Linked DNA regions of Homo sapiens: all the other regions are linked to region 3. The links come from fine-mapping of genetic effects on gene expression. A gene starts in region 3. Each other region holds a variant in brackets. All regions are shown on one strand. Distances are between the middles of the regions.

The links. PIP is the estimated chance that this variant, and not a neighbour inherited with it, causes the effect. A credible set is the group of variants that fine-mapping cannot tell apart.
Region 1: its variant is the best candidate, but not a certain one, in a credible set for the expression of BDH1 in liver (GTEx, PIP 0.71).
Region 2: its variant is the best candidate, but not a certain one, in a credible set for the expression of BDH1 in nasal epithelium (TOPMed, PIP 0.62).

The regions. Positions count from the first base shown.
Region 1 is chr3:197,589,862-197,596,097 of GRCh38, reverse strand. No RefSeq gene overlaps it. Among named protein-coding and RNA genes, the nearest start is that of BDH1, 37 kb to the right of the region's middle. The variant T/GTTTT (reference allele first, on the strand shown) is at 2,494.
Region 2 is chr3:197,511,457-197,517,692 of GRCh38, reverse strand. It overlaps BDH1 (3-hydroxybutyrate dehydrogenase 1), which reads left to right. Exons shown (of 8, transcript NM_203314.3): 7 at 3,277-3,429; 8 at 5,329-6,236. The coding sequence ends at 5,798. Among named protein-coding and RNA genes, the nearest start is that of LINC02012, 4.9 kb to the right of the region's middle. RefSeq lists an enhancer at 5,404-5,941. The variant A/G (reference allele first, on the strand shown) is at 2,687.
Region 3 is chr3:197,553,147-197,559,382 of GRCh38, reverse strand. BDH1 (3-hydroxybutyrate dehydrogenase 1) reads left to right here and starts at 3,415. Exons shown (of 8, transcript NM_203314.3): 1 at 3,415-3,602; 2 at 4,670-4,821.

The DNA.
Region 1 (6,236 bases), 37 kb before region 3:
CAGAAATAGTTTGTCTGAGCCCGATAGAATACTGATTCACTTTTCAAAGAATTTTGAAAAATTTTTACGAGTTTTACTTGCTCACCCTACCATTGCAACAGACCAGCGTTGTGGGCACAGAGTTGTCAATGGGGAAAAGAACCCTTGATTCTCCCCTGTGAGGGCTTTTCTTTGGCTAGATATAGACTCTAAAGGAAATGAATGGAATTCTGGCTGTGTGCCCCTCACACTGCCCTCTTCTGCTGCTGTCTTTCTTCCACGAGGGAACTTTCGGGACTACTCAAAGTGCTCTCCCTCAAGCTTTATTTTGTATGCAACTTGCTGCCAGGAGAGTTGGAATTCATTCTACTCACATCACAGGGAGGAAGTGGAAGGAGTTCCTGCACCGGTAGACAGGAGGGCACAGCGGGAAGAGCTCACTTCACTCCCCAAATGGGTCAGTCGTGCATCCGAGCTCTGGAGCAAGCTGTTGCGGCCCATAGGGAGGGAGAATAGGAGGGAGAGTGACAGATGGAGACAAGAGAGCGTCAGGAACAGAAGTGGTCTACCTCCAAAACAGTGCTGGAGCTGCACTTTAGAATCACCTGGGGAGGTGTAAGATTTCTGACGACCAGGCCAAACCCTGGACCCATTAAATGAGAATCTCTGGGAGTGGCACCCAAGCATTAGCTTTTTTTTTTTTTTTTTTGAGACGGAGTCTCGCTCTGTTGCCAGGCTGGAGTACAGTGGTGTGATCTCAGCTCACTGCAACCTCCACCTCCCAGGTTCAAGCGATTCTCCTGCCTCAACCTCCCAAGTAGCTGGGATTACAGGCGCCCGCCACCACGCCCGGCTAATTTTTTGTATTTTTAGTAGAGACAGGGTTTCACCGAGTTGGCCAGGATGGTCTCGAACTCCTGACCTCATGATCCGCCCTCCTCGACCTCCCAAAGTGCTGGGATTACAGGTGTGAGCCACCGCGCCCGGTCTGGATTAGCATTTTTGACAGTTCCCTGGCGGTTCTAACTTGCAGCCAGGGCTGAGAACCATCATTCACTTTCTCCAGCAGCTGTTGTTTTCCTGCCTTCTCTCTGGATAACCGGGCATTAGGGGATAGGCCCCTTCTCATTTGTCCTAGTTTGTGTTTTCTTTACTCTTTTGACCTTTGAGGACCATGATATAGAGTCAGGGGCATCTTACGCTAAGTGAAAATTTAATCTGAACTTCTTTTGCTCCGGATCCCTTCTTTCCCCTCGGGTCCTGTATCTTTATCAAACACTGATTTGGAATCCCTGAAGAAATCATTGGTTTTATTATTCAATACTGAGATACAGAGATAGACCTATCATTTAGATTTGAATTCCCTGGTCATCTGTTTCCGCATGATGAATAAACGGGCCTGTGAATAAGACGATGCTCCAGACAGTAAGGAAAGAAAATCAGTCTCAACAGTAGAACAGACTTTAAATGTTGTACTGGACAAATGCAGCGACCCCTTTCAAACCTATGTCACCAGGGCCCTTCTACACAGCTGTTTTAAAGTTTGTCAGCCTATGGCATAAGATCGACCTTTCTCTCTCCTGCTGGATATGGTGTGATATTGTCTCTAGCTGAGTGCTATAGGGTGCCTCCTCTCTTGCTGACTACGAAGCCATTCTTGGAAGGTGTCTGGGGTTGAACTTGTGTAAAAGCAAGCCTGGGGCCAGGTGCAGTAGCTCGTGCCTGTGATCCCAGCACTTTGGGAGGCCGGTGGGTGGATCACCTGAGGTCAGGAGTTCAAGACCAGCCTGGCCAACATGATGAAACCCCGTCTCTACTAAAAATACAAAAAAAAAAAAAAAAAATTAGTTGGGCGTGGTGGTGTGTGCCTGTAGTCCCAGCTACTTGGAAGGCTGAGGCCGGAGAATCACTCAAACCTGGGAGGTGGAGGTTCCAGTGAGCTGAGATCGCGCCACTGCACTCCAGCCTGGGTGAAAAGAGCAAAACTCCATCTCAAAAACAACAACAACAACGATAACAGCAAAAAAAGCAAGCCCTGCTGTCGTGCCAGACCCCTGTTGACTGCAGTAGCGTTGGTAGTGTGTTCGAGACGCCAAAGAAGAGGCTGGGGGCCAGTGACTGAGACACAGGGCTTCCTGAGGGGACTTACATACAGGGCAGTCCAGTGGCAGCAGGCTGGACCAGAGAATGGCAACCACTCGTAAAAAGCATGCAGTTTATATAGCATTTTCACCTAGCACCCTCCCCCTAGCAACCTCCACCTGGCAACCTTCCTTTAACCCAAAACAAAGGGCCTGGATCCCCTCTATGGCCTCCATTCCACAGGATGGGCGGGGGGTTCAGATGCCCCTCGCAGATAAGGAATGAGTCTCCAGGTTGGCCCCATTTCCCGATTCCTTAGCTCAGAACTCCAAACACATTCTTTTTAGGCCTAGGGTCATTCTCAGGGTATGCTTAAGTTATTGCTGTCAGGTGCATCCTCCATACACCTGTGATTTGTTTGTTTGTTTGTTT[T/GTTTT]GTTTGAGACAGAGTCTCGCTCTGCCACCCAGGCTGGAGTGCAGTGGCACCATCTCGGCTCACTGCAACCTCTGCCTCCTGGGTTCAAGCGATTCTCCTGCCTCAGCCTCCCCCAAGTAGCTGGGATTACAGGCGCCTGCCACCACTCCCGGCTAATTTTTGTATTTTTAGTAGAGACAGGGTTTCACCATGTTGGCCAGGCTGGTCTCAAACTCCTGACCTCAGGTCATCCACCCACCTTGGCCTCTCAAAGTGCTGGGATCACAGGTGTGAGCCACCATGCCTGGCCTGTGATTTTGAAATCTTAAGGCACCTGGTGTGGTGGTCACCAGCTTCTGCCTAATGAGCAATCCCACCTCCGTGCGGAGACACAGCTCTCCTAAATCAAGTCTTTCTTAACAATTCTGAGCCCAGTTCCTCTTCCCCTCGCCCCTGTTCGTGGCAGGATCTGGAGTATTACGGACCACGAGAGATGCAGAAATGGAGCACAGGCGGTGAGCCAAGGACACCCGAGGTACGAGCTCTTGCCCTTCTCCTTCCCTGCCCTCTGCTGCCTGGAGATACGGCAGCCCAGCACCAGCCCCCCAGCTGCTTCCAGTGGAAAAATGCTGTGTCATTTCAGGGAGGGATTATAGTTTGAACTTGTATTGATTAAGTCTTTATGTGACGCTTCCAAATCCTTGTGTTTTTCCATAGACGTTGAGTTTTCCGTTTTCATCCCTAGCTAGATGGACTCACTATGAGCACCCCCCACTTCCAGGGCCAGGATGAGAGCCTCCCCCCTTCTTACAACATGTGAAATCATGAAGACCTCTGCCTTGGCCCAATTTCCCTAGAAAACAGAGCCTGAGGCAAAGCTTGTGTGCTTCTGGGCAGCGGGGCTGAGTTCCAGGAAAGTAAGAGTAAAGGACGAAAGGAAGTGAGTTCCAGGAAAGTAAGAGTAAAGGACGAAAGGAAGTGAGTTCCAGGAAAGTAAGAGTAAAGGACGAAGGAAGTGAGGAGGCAGCGCACGCACGAGGTGGGAGGTTAGCAAGCAGGCCGTGGCTTCCTCAGCACACGCCGCTGGTTGCTCACTCCTGGGGGCTTGATCAAGGAGCCTGGGCCTAGCAGAGTTCCCTTGGGGTGCTTTCTCAGGATGCCGAATTTAATACCCTGGTAAGGACCCCAGGTGATGAGACAAACTCAAGGGTGACTCTTAGAAGCCCGGAGAAAGTGGCAGCCAGTGTCAATGGCGGCAACGGACATGACTAAGTAGCCCTGGAAGATGGTAGTGAAAACACAAAAAGCCTGAGGAAAGTGGGCACGCTGGGATGGCTATGTCATCTGAGACCAGAAGAGCCACCGGGGGTGGGGGTAAGTATGAGGGGTGGGCCCAGAGAACAGGTGATTGACCACGACCATCAGGAATGCTCAGGTGAGAGGCACCAACCTCACTAAACAGGAGAGCTGGTCACAGAGCTGGGCTCACTGCTACCCATGGCAATGAAGCCCCTCTACCCCCAGGCATAGAGGCCAGGTGGTGGCCTTTGGCTTCCAGATGCCAGGAGGTCATAATGACCTGCAGAGTTAGTCATGCAGCCAACCAGGCCCGGCCCACAGGGAGTTGTGGTCCACAGAGCACAGCATCTCCCGGGGCAGAATAAATGGGCAACCTACACAGGTGCTGCCTAACGCCTCCAGCCAGCAAGAGGCACAAGTGGAGACGCAGGAGGCTCAGAGCCCTAATACAAACTTACAGTCCCTTACTCAGTTGTTTTGACCTAAGCCAATTTTCCGATCTGGAATCCATGGACTGAAGAGGTGGCTGGGTCTCTAAGAATGAACTCGGCAACACCGGCAAGAAAAGAGTGTAATGATTCCCCCAGTCTTTCCCTAGGGGGACCCGTGGCCGTGTACTTGGGTGACCGTACACGGAAGAAAAAGGAATCCCCAGATGTCCGGAGGGCTACTTGATGTAGTGACTGAGTTGAAACTGATACCTGGAGACCCAAAGCACCATTGTTGTCTCCTTGTTAGACTGAGGGGCTATGGAGGTCAGTCCATCAATGAAATCCTGCCTAAAGTCTGACACACGAGTGGCAGAATGGCCTGGAAGAGGCCGTCGTCAGCAAAGAGGACATTTACTCCAGGAGATAAAGCATTCAGGGCCGGGTGTGGTGGCTCATGCCTGTAATCCCAGCACTCTGGGAGGCTGAGGCGGGCGGATCACAACGTTGGGAGTTTGAGACCAGCCCGGCCAATATGGTGAAACTCCATCTCTACTAAAAACACAAAAATTAGCCAGGCGTGGTGGCTCACACCTGTAATCCCAGCTACTCCGGAGGCTGAGGCAGGAGAATCCCTTGAACCTGGGAGGGGGAGGTTGCAGTGAGCCGAGATTGTGCCATTGCACTCCAGCCTGGGCTGCAGAGTGAGACTCTGTCTCAAAAACAAACAAATAAACAAACAAACAAAAAACTTTCCCCACCTGAGATGGCTGCAGGGGAGCATAACAGTTCTGTTAGAGCAGGAAGGGGAGGGGGAATAGAATTTTTATTGTATTTTATTAGACATCTTCATTTTCTAAATTTTCTGAGATAAGTTCTCAAAATTAGTGTGAACCAGTCATCAGGAGCTCCTCATCTGGTGTGTTTTCCTGGATGTACAGTGCACATCCTGCAAAAGGATGCCCCCTTCAGAGAGGTGAGGTTCAAACTCCAGGGAATCAGCCCAAGAGCAGTTACCTCTTTGCAGAGGTGTGGAAAGTGGCAGGAGAAGAGACAGGCCCTGATGGCAATTCAGCAAACATCACCCATGTGCCAGGCACTGTGCCAAGCACCGGGATACAGAGATTAATCCAGCTGGTCTTTGAAGTCCAGAAGCCCCCAGACCAATAATCCATAACTAGCCATGGAGGACTTCTCACTAGGGAAGAGGCCACCTCTGCAGGCCTCTCTCAGAACTGGGGATGTGGGTGTTTACTCACTGCTGGGAAGGGCTGACCTTTGAGTTGTTTTCCTAGTCACAGAAAGTCCTCTGATCCACCACCTGCATGGGTGAGATTCGGCTGGGTCAGGGCAGAGCTCCTCCCTGAGCCTGCAGGGCGCTGGGCCTGCCATGTGTAACCCAGCAGAGCGGCTTCTCACCCACTGCCCAGGCTGGCAGCCTTCTAGGGAAATCTGTGAAGAAAACACATTTAGGGGTGTGACATATTTTCTCCTGGTTTCTGTAGGGTTCCTGCTACCTTGGAAACAAAGACAGAGAACTAACTGGCAGCCACTGGCTGAACAAAATTCCATGGGCCTGGAAAGGCAACTCTGATTGTGGTTGGGTAGCCCAGTGCCTGGCGCAACGCCTGCACAGTGAGACGCTTCTGGTTGCTGGTGTTGATGGAGGCTAGAGGCTGTTACAAGATGTGTCTGAGAAATTTCAGTGTATTTTTCGGTTATTGTTTTTCTTTTGAAGTACCAAATGCTCTGACAAATTTGAACAGACAGAAGTATGAGGTAAAAACTGCCCCATGTATCCCTTCTCTTAGTAACTCCCTTGTAATTCCTTCTAGAAAATTTCTTAGCAAATGTAAGCATAAACTTATATATATATTTATATATATATATATATTTATATATATATATATATTTTTTTATATATATATATATATATTTTTATATATATATATATTTTTATATATATATATACAGCTATAGATAGATATAGATATGTAGATGTACACACATACAGTTGGTCGTAGTATACATCAGATC
Region 2 (6,236 bases), 42 kb after region 3:
AGCAGGAAGTGACTGATGGGGGGGTCGGCCTGAAGGGGGATGGAGACCATAGAGCAGGAAGTGACTGATTGGGGGGGTCGGCCTGAGGGGGGATGGAGACCATAGAGCAGGAAGTGACTGATGGGGGGGTCGGCCTGAAGGGGGATGGAGACCATAGAGCAGGAAGTGACTGATGGGGGGGTCGGCCTGAAGGGGGATTGAGACCATAGAGCAGGAAATGACTGATGAGGGGGTCGGCCTGAGGGGGGATGGAGACCATAGAGCAGGAAATGACTGATGGGGTGGGGGGGTCAGCCTGAGGAGGGGATGGAGACATACAGCAGGAAGTGACTGATGGGGTCGGCCTGAGGGGGGGATGGAGACCATAGAGCAGGAAATGACTGATGCGGGGGTCGGCCTGAGGGGGGGATGGAGACCATAGAGCAGGAAATGACTGATGCGGGGGTCGGCCTGAGGGGGGATGGAGACCATAGAGCAGGAAGTGACTGATGGGTCTGCCTGAGGGGTGGGGTGAAGACGGAGGTGGAGGAGTGAGTGAGACAAACAGACCCAGGAGGCTTCTCCAGCAGCCCAGGAGACAGGCAGCGAGGACCCAAGGGAATGCTAGTGGAAACAGGAAGGAAGAACTGACCCAGCAGAGGAAACCAGCAACAGCCTGGGGCGTGGGGACTTTGTCCTCAGAGAGATCTGGGTCCAAATCCCACCCTCCCTGCCTGTTAGCTGGGTGACATTGACCAAGGTGCTTAACCTCTCTGAGCTTCAGTTGCCTCAACCGGATATGAGACAATTTAGGATCTATTTTCCAGGGTGGTTGTGAGGATCAGGGAAGTTAATGAATGTAAAGGGCTTGATTAGGGGTCTGCCAGCTGTCATGTTGATCTTGAGCTGTAATATTAGCAGTACTGGGTGACTCAGTAGGTGGGGGAGGGGTGGAGGAGCTGGAGGAGTCACAGACAAAAGTAAAATCATTAACAAAGAGGAGGAGCAGGCTTGGGCAGCTTGGAAACTTGACGTGTTGGTTGTGGTTAGGGTGAGTCAGGGACCCGTGGGACATTCAGGTGGAAGCGAGACAGGAGATGGGATGAGGAGAGAGAGCCGTGACTCCCAAGGAGAACTGAGGGGCCACTGGTGCGGAGGCGATCTTGGGGATGTTACAGGAAAGTTGCTGTCACCCAACCAGCGGGCATGCCTCCGTGAGTTTATTCAGAACATTGGCTGAGGATTCCAGATGGCAACTAGGTCCACCACTCTCAACACTCATTAAAGCTGTAATCCAGGGGCTGTGCACTTTCACAGGTCATGTTTCATTAAACTTTTTTGGATAGTAGCGTCAAATGTCATTGTTTTATTTTTAGGTAGAGAAAGGGCTGTATGCATTTTAAGTCATGGGATATTGTCCGTTATGAATCAAACACAAAACGGCTGCAAAATTCACAAACATGAAGAAGATGAGGACACCTAAGAGTTAAGTGTACTTTGAGAGGAGCAGGATTAGGCCAGGACATTGGGGGCCACTTGTATCTGGGGGCAGGTGAAAGAAAGGTGTCAGGGAAGATGCAGGAGATGCCTGGGTATCACTAATGCTGAGGGAGAGGTGAGCCTCAAGGAGTACTGGCAGTACTCATATCGTAGCGAGCCTGAGGAGAGTGAAGACTGGGGGTGAGGTCCTTGGTGTACCACCCTGGAGACCCTGGAGACTGCGTGGTCAGGACAGCTGAGGGCTGGGACCCAGTGTGGTATGGAAGGGAGATGGAGAGGATAGAGCGCGCGCGCGCGCGTGTGTGTGTGTGTGTGTGTGTGCGTGCTCTGTCACCCAGGCTGGAGTGCCGTGGCATGATCCGGCTCATTGCAACCTCTGCCTCCTGGGTTCAAGAGATTTTCCTGCCTCAGCCTCCCGAGTAGCTGGGACTACAGGTGCCCGCCACCACACCCGGCTAATCTTTGTATTACAGGATAGAGTTCTTGGAAGCCTGGCGTGGAGGGAGGGAGAGCAGGTAGCACAGTTACAGAAGGATCTTCGGGATATGGAAATGCGGTATTTGTGGACACTCATTCATCTAACACACATTTGTTGAGCTCCTAATGTGTATAGAACTGAAGGGATGGAGTCATGGGCAGTGGAAAAGCTGAAATTGTGTAAAAGAGAGAGAAGGATCAGTGGCTATGGTCTCGAAGATGACGTGGAAGTGTCAGCCATGACGGGTGGGGAGTGGCCTGCTGCTCCTCCTGGGAAGAGAAGAAGGTGAAGACTCAGGGCGCGTCTGCAGGGAGACAGTGGGAGCTGTGGGGTCGTGGATGACGCTGATCCTGTCATTAGCATCTGAGCGAGGTCACAGGTGAGACCTAGAGCAGGGAGACACCCGCAAGGCTTTGGTGGAGAGTGGGAGTGAGCTCTTCATGGACACTCTGTTAACCAGCAATTTCCTTTCCCTAATAAATGCCCTTAATTCTCCATAATTGAAGGAGAAGGCACCAGAGGGCAGTGAATGAAGCTTTAATTTGGGTAACACGGAAGGAAAGCAGCTAGAGACCAATTACTCTGTCATTTACACAAACTCATTTCCATGATTAACTTGGAAAATAAAGCAGCGCCGAGTTCCCACAGGCAGGGGAGGGCCCCAGGATGGGAGCTCTGCTCTGAGGCTGTGCCTTGGGAAGGAGCACGGGGCTATCGGCCCGGGAGACC[A/G]AACACTGAGGGTTTCCACAACAAAGAGGCAGGGCCCAGCTCTGTCCTGAGGCTCTGACCCATCCAGCCTTTGCACCCCAACAAACTGAACTCAGAGAGGTCCCTGCAAAACACAGCTGCCTCCTCGTGCCCACCTCCCCTGTGATTTCCCTGGCTTCTGGCAAGAGAAGAGAAGACGTGAGCAAAAGCTCAAGGGCAGAGATGAGTAAACAGGAACGGGGCGTGAAACTCAAACTCAGGGTGTGGGGATGGGATGGGGTGGAGTGGAGTGGAAGTGGGAATTTGAGGTGAGGTGAGACTGAAGGCCGGGGGACACGGCAGGCTGGGTCATGATGGGCCCAGAGACTCGAGCCAGGCAGATGTGACGTGAGGACTGGACATTCTAGACGCAAGGGAGGGCTGCAGTCAGCACTTTAGGCCTCTTTACCTCCTGTCGTTCCTGAGTGACTCTAGAAAGTTTCTTGAGAGCACTGGGCGAGAGGCTGGGAAGTCACAGGAAAGAAGCAGAGAGGAGGCTGGCCTGCAGGCTGATGGGCAATGTCTGGGCCAAGCCCATGTGGTAAATGCACATCTATCCCTCTCCTGTCCAGGCATGTGGGGCCTCGTTAACAATGCCGGCATCTCAACGTTCGGGGAGGTGGAGTTCACCAGCCTGGAGACCTACAAGCAGGTGGCAGAAGTGAACCTTTGGGGCACAGTGCGGATGACGAAATCCTTTCTCCCCCTCATCCGAAGGGCCAAAGGTGAGTGGGAAAGGGAGCTCCCTCCTGCCCCTGAACCTGCCCCACGTGTTCATCTTTGCTCAGAATGGAAATACCTGTCCCAGCAGCTCCAATGTCCACAACTCAGCAGAGGTGAGCTCGTGAATCCCAGGGACTATGCTGGGCCTGGGGTGATGGTGGGCAGAGGGGCTGTGGCCGGGTAGGGGAGGAGGAAGCAGAGCAGGTAAGAGGTCAGTGGTCCATGCAGCAAAAGCTTAAAGAGTTGAGCAGCCATCCACTCTGCACACCTAATCTATAGAGAGAATCACCCTTTGCACAAAGCTGTGTGTACACATCTTTGTATCAGTCAGGTGTGGTTAGTAAAATCTGGCATATTCATTCTATGGGTTATTTATATCGTAGTTTAAAAAATGAGATCATTGTGGTATTAGGGAACAATAGTAAAAATCAAGATTAGAAATTTGGAAAACCAACAAAACACCCAAACCATGTGGGTGGCCAAATGTGAGCAAACCACTTTAGAAGTCATTGACTTGGATTTTTTTCTCTGGCATAGCAAACAATTGTGGCAAAAAGGGTAAGATCCATACATCTATGGTGAAGTCCTAGCAACAACAAGCATGAACACAGACTGCAGCTGTAGGATTTTAGATGGAAACCCCAACCCTTCAGTGACTTCAAATTTAGAGCTTTCTGAAAGGTGCCTCCCCCAGGATGGGCTGAGTTCCCTCCCGGGGACACACCTGGATGGGCTGAGTGCCCTCCCGGGGACACACCTGGATGGGCTGAGTGCCCTCCCGGGGGCACACCTGGATGGGCTGAGTGCCCTCCCGGGGGCACACCTGGATGGGCTGAGGGCCCTCCCGGGGGCACACCTGGATGGGCTGAGTGCCCTCCCGGGGGCACACCTGGATGGGCTGAGTGCCCTCCCGGGGACACACCTGGATGGGCTGAGTGCCCTCCCCGGGACACACCTGGATGGGCTGAGTTCCCTCCCAGGAAAACTGGTCCCAGATCCGCCTCGGCTTCCCGGGCTGGGCCAAATGCAATCCACTTCCAACCCCTCTGTTCCCAGGGCCAGGAGGAGCTGTGGGAGGCCCCTGATGCCCCCAGGCTGGGCCTGTGGCCTTTGGAGGGGGATCACCACACTCTCCCAGTGCCCAGGACTCTCTCCTCATATCCTAGCCCTGAAGTCAGGTTCAGAAATCCTGCCCCTGCCCCTGCCTGCTGCTCTGTTTGCCAGGCGGTCCTGGTCTCCACCCAGGCTCCACCCTACCAGGGTGGAATGGAGTTGGGGAGTTGGGCCTAACAGCACGGGTCCTGTCCTCTTTCAGGGCTGTCCCGGGGCTCCCTCCCAGCTGCAGCCCCAGGTACTTCCTCGTCTGCACTCCAACCCCCATCGCCAGGGCTGCTGTCAGTGGCTAGACACTTGGCCCTAGTGTGCTACTTATCTGCACGTCGTACTACTGGAGCTGGACTTTAAGCTCCATAAGGGGAAGGGGAAGCTTTCAGGCTGTATTTCTCCCTCACCAGCACCAGACCTTGCCTATAGTGAAAGCTCAGATCCACACAGACAGCTGTCTCGCCTCCCACTTCTCCCCTCGTGTTTTCACCCCAAATTATCACCGCATCGGGCTTGATCTGGTTTTTGAGTCAGTTGCGTGTTGCCCATTACACTGTGCCCTGCTGCTTCTCACTCACTTGTCCTCCCCTGTCCTGCCTGGCACAGCCAGGTTCCCAGGGAAGACCAGGGGTGCCGATGCTGATGCGTGGGCCTGAGCTGGCCTTGCCTATTGACTGAGAAGGCTCCTGGGTGGCTCAGAAGTGGTTCCAGCCAAGCCTCTAGAGACATGCCAGACTTCTGCCCGCTGTGTCATAGGGCAGTAACGGCTTAGCAGGTACCTCTGTCTCCCTCTGTAGGCCGCGTCGTCAATATCAGCAGCATGCTGGGCCGCATGGCCAACCCGGCCCGCTCCCCGTACTGCATCACCAAGTTCGGGGTAGAGGCTTTCTCGGACTGCCTGCGCTATGAGATGTACCCCCTGGGCGTGAAGGTCAGCGTGGTGGAGCCCGGCAACTTCATCGCTGCCACCAGCCTTTACAGCCCTGAGAGCATTCAGGCCATCGCCAAGAAGATGTGGGAGGAGCTGCCTGAGGTCGTGCGCAAGGACTACGGCAAGAAGTACTTTGATGAAAAGATCGCCAAGATGGAGACCTACTGCAGCAGTGGCTCCACAGACACGTCCCCTGTCATCGATGCTGTCACACACGCCCTGACCGCCACCACCCCCTACACCCGCTACCACCCCATGGACTACTACTGGTGGCTGCGAATGCAGATCATGACCCACTTGCCTGGAGCCATCTCCGACATGATCTACATCCGCTGAAGAGTCTCGCTGTGGCCTCTGTCAGGGATCCCTGGTGGAAGGGGAGGGGAGGGAGGAACCCATATAGTCAACTCTTGATTATCCACGTGTGGATTATCCACCATGCCAGGAAGACCCATAACTGGTTTTAACACTAACTAGAGGGAATGACTTCTTTGCATAGTGAGTGACTTGGGCCTTCACAAACAGGGTGTGGAGTGGCAGGCAGAGGCCTCTAAATCTCAGGGCAAACATGGTGAATCTATCTCTCCGGAGATAATTTCATACAGAGATTTTAAGAAAACATCTTTATATTAAAAACAGATCTCATTTGATCCTTAAGCCAGTCTCATGAATGAAAAGGACAGGTTTTTTTCTTTTGTAAATGAAGCATTTGCAGCTTAAAGAGGATGCATGAAATAACCCTTTTATCGCTTATAAATAGTGCCAGTTATGTGT
Region 3 (6,236 bases):
TACACTCAACAGACAAGGTACATTAATCACATAATGAATGAGTTCCAATTTCATTTAGAGTCCAATTATTAAAGTTCAGTTGAAGCTGAGCATGGTGGCTCATGCCTGTAATCCCAGCACTTTGGGAGGCTGAGGTGGGCAGATCATCTGAGGTCAGGAGTTCAAGACCACCCTGGCCAACATGGTGAAACCCCATCTCTACTAAAAATACAAAAATTAGCTGGGCGTGGTGGCGGGCACCTGTCCCAGCTACTTGGGAGGCTAAGGCAGGAGAATCGCTTGAACCCTGGAGGCGGAGGTTGCAGTGAGCCGAGATCGCACCATTGCACTCCAGCCTGGGTAACAAGAGTGAGATTCCATCTCAAAAAAAAAAAAAAAAAAGTTCAATTGCCCACTTAGGATGGAAAGCAGGCTTTTGTGGATGCAAAGTCCAATCAGAGTTTGAGGCACTACTTTCTAGGAGAGGTTCTCGGGAGGGACAGCTTGACTAATACAATGGAGATCCATGAAGATACGTGAGGTCTCTTGCTGCTAGAGAGCGGTGCCAGTGTTGTGAGACAAGGCTTCAAAAACAGCTTCAAGGCTTCCAGAGAGTGGCCTCGCCACATCCTAAGCTCTCCAAGCGTCTGTCAAAATCCTGGGTTTCTATGTGTTTGGAGTCCAGTGGTTGAGGTCAGTAGCTCCCATGCGGGGTCTGATAAGGTGTGACATGACATTCCCTTGGCTAGGGAGAGTTCCCTGCATGTTCTAATCACAGTAAAACAATATCACTCTCACAGAAAAGTGAAAGTGTTCGGAATCATTTAAAGCTACATAACAAAATCCCAAGGAATTGGAGGGGAGGGCTGGGAAGAGTCAAATAGGGAAGGAGGGAAAGAGAATGGCATCCAAGGGTGTATTCGTGAGTTGATCAAGTCGGTCACTACTATGGGCAAACAGAATGCTATCATTTTAGGAGCTGCATAGAACATATCTCAGAATTGCCCACTGGAAGACTGGAAGAGCAGAGTATTTTTCCTGCAGTTCCTGCCTGCCCTTTGGTCAAAGTTTGTCCTTTGAGGTGTTCCTTTGCACTTCCAGGTTTACTCATGTGTCAGAGTGGACAGCGGATTCCTGCAAGGGTCCCAGGTTGCAGTGCCAGAGACGCAGAATACCAGGTGCAGCTGAGGCAAGGTGCTCTCAGGTTACACCTGTTCATACCTGGTTGTCACAGCAAAGCTGGGCTGGGAAGATGTAAGGCCAGATGTGTAATACAACCTCAGAAAGGTCAAATGTCCTTTTCTGTCTTATGCAAATAGGACTACAATTCAGTTTAATTCTCAGAGTCAGGATCTATGTTTTTTCCCTTGGGGTAAAGAAGAATTCTTCCTTTAACTACTTTTCTAGCAAAGCATAATCCTCAAGGCGTAATTTTAGTATAGTGATTTATTTTTAACCCTGTGGTACTATATGCCTAATGTTCTGAAACACCGTCACTGGAGCAAATCCAGGCTTGAGTCTATCTGTGAAACGGGAACAGAAAACTAAGTGCATCCTCCCTTCCTGATTCTCCCAGTCTTCAAGGCTGTATGTGCCAGGAGCTGGGGATAAAGGAGATAGCCTTAGCTCTCCAGAAGCTCACAGAATGGACAGACAGAGCCAACAGTTTTATTTGTTTGTTTGTTTTTTGAGACAGTCTCCCACTGTTGCCCAGGCTGGAATGCAGTGGCACCATCTCAGCTCACTGCAACCTCTGCCTCCCAGGCTTAAGCAATTCTTCTGCCTCAGCCTCCCACCTAGCTGGGATTACAAGCATCCACTACGAAGGGCAGGGTTTCACCACATTGGCCAGGCTGGTCTCAAACTCCTGGCCTAAAGTGATCCACCCGCCTCAGCCTCCTACAGTGCTGGGATTATAGGCGTGAGCCACCGCACCCGGTCTACAGTTTTCTTTAAATCTTCATCATGCCAGTACTTCCCTCCTCCTGTTTTCATCTTCCTGTATTTGCAAGTTTCATTCATTCTCTTCATTCTATTCATTCCTTCTCTGTACTTTACCTAAACATAGTTGTGAACCCCCAAAATCTGAGCCAGATCAATTTAGGAAGTTTATTTTCCCAAAGTTAAGAATGCACGCAAGTGAAATGGCCTCAGGAAGTCCTGACATGTGCCTAAGGTGGTTGGGACACAGCTCGGTTTTATACATTTTAGGGAGACATGAGACATCAATCAACATATGTAAGATGAACATTGGCTCAGTCTGGAAAGGTGGGACAACTCGAAGCAAGGAGGGAGCCCCCAGGTTATAGGTAGATGAGAGACAAATGGTCGCATTCTTTCGAGTTTCTGATGAGCCTCTCCAAAGGGGGAATCAGATATGCATTTATCTCAGTGAGCAGGGGGTGATTTTGAGTAGAATGGGGGCAGGTTGGCCCTAAGCCGTTCCCAGCTTGACTTTCCCCTTTAGCCTAGTGATTTGGGGGCCCCAAGGTTTATTTTCCTTTCGCGTAGCTTCGCCACTAATGTGTCCTGGTGTCTTCTCTCCTCAGCCTGTTTCTCATCCTGGAAACTGAGGTGTGCTGGCGCAGGGCGATAGCGCAGTGGGGTGGGGTTGGGAGGAAACCCTTATCTGTGGCCGATGGCCCTCCGTTGTTCTATTATTAAAACTCTGGGAAACTGCTATTCTTAATTTATTTTTAAAGACCCTGAGAAGCAAATCTTTAATTTTTTTGTTTTTGTGAGACGGAGCACTCTGTCGCCCAGGCTAGAGTGCAATGGTGCAATCTCGGCTCACTGGAACCTCCGCCTCCTGGGTTCAAGCGATTCTCCTGCCTCAGCCTCCCGAGTAGCTGGGATTACAGGCGTGCGCCACCGCGCCCTGCTAACTTTTGTATTTTTAGTAGAGACTGGTTTTCACCATGTTGGCCAGGCTGGTCTCGAACTCCTGACCCCAAGTGATCCACCTGCCTCAGCCTCCCAAAGTGCTGGAATTACAGGCGTGAGCCACCGCCCCCGGCCTTTAAATAAATTCATCTGATCAAAAGAAATTTAAAAACCAACCAACCCTAATGAGCTCTAAAGACAGCAACACGCACAGGACCTGGAAAGAGCCTCTTCCTCACCGGAGTTTTCCTCACTTCAAGGAGCGGCGCCTTCACCCTCCGGCCTCAGCCCGCGAGGCTGCAACCCTTTCCGCACCTGGCTCCATCTCCCTGGCCCTCGCCCCCGCCCAGCGGTCGGGGAGCGAGAAGGCGGCGGGGGATCTGGCGCCCGGCTTAGGGGCGAGACGGCCGCACCGGGAGCCTAGCGATCAGGGCACCTTGGGCGGGAGGAGCGCCAGCCGGGCACCCAGCGCGGAGGAGGCGGCTCGGCGGCCCCCCGACAGCCACGCCGCCGTGAGCCCCGCCCAGCGTAGCCCCAGCGCGCGCTTCGCGTGTAGAAGCGTCCGGGTGGCGGAGGCCGCAGGCCGCAGGAGTGCTGGTGGAGGGGCTTCCAGAAAGACCCTGCGGCAGCGCCCCCCCTCGGCTCTCCCCGCAGGAGAGCGGGCACCTGCGCGGCGCCGGGTGAAGGCGAGAGCCTCGGCGAGCCCTCTGCAGCGGAGCCCCCTGCCCATTTGGTTTTGGGTAAGAGGAGGGGTCCGCGTCTCTGCAGCTCGGGCGGGATTCCCTGGCGCCCTCTACTCGGTTTGGTTCGGCCTCACGTGTTCCTTTAGCTCCGAAGCCGGGATACGGGTGGGGAAGGGGGGCTCGCGCCCTACAGGCCGAGCCCTGCGGCCGCAGCGGGGTAAGGGTAGGATGGCCGATCGCGCCCAGACCCCAGGGAGTCTCCCTCTCGGCTTTTCTGCCGGCGTCTCCAGCAGCATGATCTGGCATTTATTATTCGGAATAATGTGCCAGGCAGGAGGAGGCCCTGGGTTAAACACGCGGCCCTGCAGCTCCCAGGTGAAACGACTCATCGTTTCCTGCCGGCGCATCTTACTGAAGGGGACCCAGGCCCCACGAAGGGAAGGAACCGTCCTCAAGGTCACGTCGTAGTCAAAGGCCGAGCCCAGACCGAAGCCAGGTGTCCTGCCTTCTAGCCCCGGGCTCTAGGCCCTGTCCCCTTCCCGACCGAATCTCCCAGTCCCGTCCGCGTCCCTCCTCCTCCTCCTCCTCCGGGGTCCTCCGCAAGGCTCTGTTCCCGGGGTTTGGGGAGTCCTCCCTCCGCGCCACAGCGCCCTGGGGAAGAATGCTGGACAGCAGGCAGGCCACAGGGCCGGGGAAGGAGGAGGAGCCGCGGGGACAGGCTGGGGATGCCAGAGTGGTGGTGGGCCCGGGACTGGCCAGGGTGGGAGTCCAGGCGGCGCACCCGCGCGAGGACAAGGGGGCTTTGGCTGGGCGGTGCTGTCTCAACCAATGGGAAGCGTGGCTCTGGCCGAGCCCCCCTCTCTCCCCGCCCTCCGGCCGGCCGTTGGGGAGCGCTGCTCTGGGATTGGCTGCGCCGCCGTCTCGGGCGTTCTCGCGCTCTGCTTACGTGCTGACGCGCGCCTGATAGATACCCTGTGGGTTTGAGCGCTCCGGTCGGTCCCTAGCGGCCCAGGCGCCTTGGGCGTGCGTCCTGCGCGCGGCCGCCTCCAGGCTGCGCCCTTCTGGGGAAGTGTTTGGTGCTGCGCGCGGCGTCGAACTCCGCGTTTTTTTTTTTTCTTTTCCAGCCAGTCAGCCTGGAAATCTGCCTGTAGTCAGCTGATGCAGAGTCACCCTGCAGTTCCTACTTTGAGGGGTTGCAGAAGCACATATTTCACTATGGAGGGCCGCCTGCAGGCCTCGCGCTGACAGGATCTTTTGTGACGCTGCAAATGTCCTGGTCAGTGTCCTTCTTTCTACAAGAGGCGTTGGAGCCGGGCTCTGCATAGGGCGTATATATCCCTGGCCGCCAAGGAAGCTGACCCTTGAAATTTGTGAAGCTTTCATATTCACTCAATACACATTTACAGAGCCTCTACTTCCTGTCAGGCGTCACACAATAAATATTCGGAGGAGCAAGAAGAGAGTGATTCAACATTTGGGTCTTGTCTGTAGGGTGCTCACAGTCCGGGTGGGGATTGGTGGTAGGATGGGGGCTTGTGAATGTTTATAAACAGAAATCCCTCGAATACGACCCTGGCTAGGTAGGTGCAGTTACAGAGGCACAGAAGGGAGGAGATTGGGCGAAAGATTTTTGAATTAGGGGATTAGAAAAGGCTGCTCGGGAGAGTTATCTGAACCAGCTAGGACTTGGTCAGATGCAGTCAGTTTGGTATAGGATGAGCAAGGCTCGAAAATTGGAAAGTACAGGGCTTGTTGAGGGATGGTGTAGCAAACGGTTGAATGAGTAGAGGAGAAAAGTATAGTTGGAGATACGGTTTGGAGGAGCCAGGTGAGGACTCGGGGGCTCAGCTTGTGTCCTCGGGTTTGAAATGCAGTAAGCACTTGTGAATAGAAAGGCTGCTTAATCATTTGCACTACTGTCATTTGTTACACCTAGACCAAACATCTTGGAAATGGCTTTGATTCTTCCTTCTTTCATATCCTACACTCAATCTGTTGGTAAATGGTAGCGGACTCTACCTTCAATATAAAGCCAGACTTACCAATTCTAATCAGTTCCATGGTTTTCACCAAGGCTGGTGTACATTTCTAAGGAACACGTTTTCACATCTCACTGCAGTGGTGCAATATACAACCCTCATGACTGCACATGGTGGCCCTGGATTACTGCCACAGATCCTAATGGGTCTCCCTGCTTCTGCTCTAGTCCATCCTCAACTTATTAACCCAGTGAGAGTTACCTTTTTAAAAATGTAAGTCTGATAATGGCACTCCTCTTCTTAAAACTCTTCTTTTTTTTTTTTTTTTTTTGAGACAGAGTCTTGCTCTGTTGCCAGGCTGGAGTGCAGTGGCGTGATCTCGGCTCACTGCAATCTCCACCTCCTGGGTTCAAGTAATTCTCCTGCCTCAGCCTCCCAAGTAGCTGGGACTACAGGCGCGAGCGACCACACCCAGCTAATTTTTGTATTTTTAGTAGAGACGGGGTTTCACCATGTTGGCCAGGATGGTCTCGATCTCTTGACCTCGTGATCTGCCCACCTCGGCCTCCCAAAGTGCTGGGATTACAGGCGTGAGCCACCACACCCAGCCAAAACTCTCTTAATTCATTTAATTATGTACCAGCCAGGCGTGGTGGCACACACCTGTAATCTCAGCACTTTGGGAGGCCGAGGTGGGCAGATCATTTGAGGT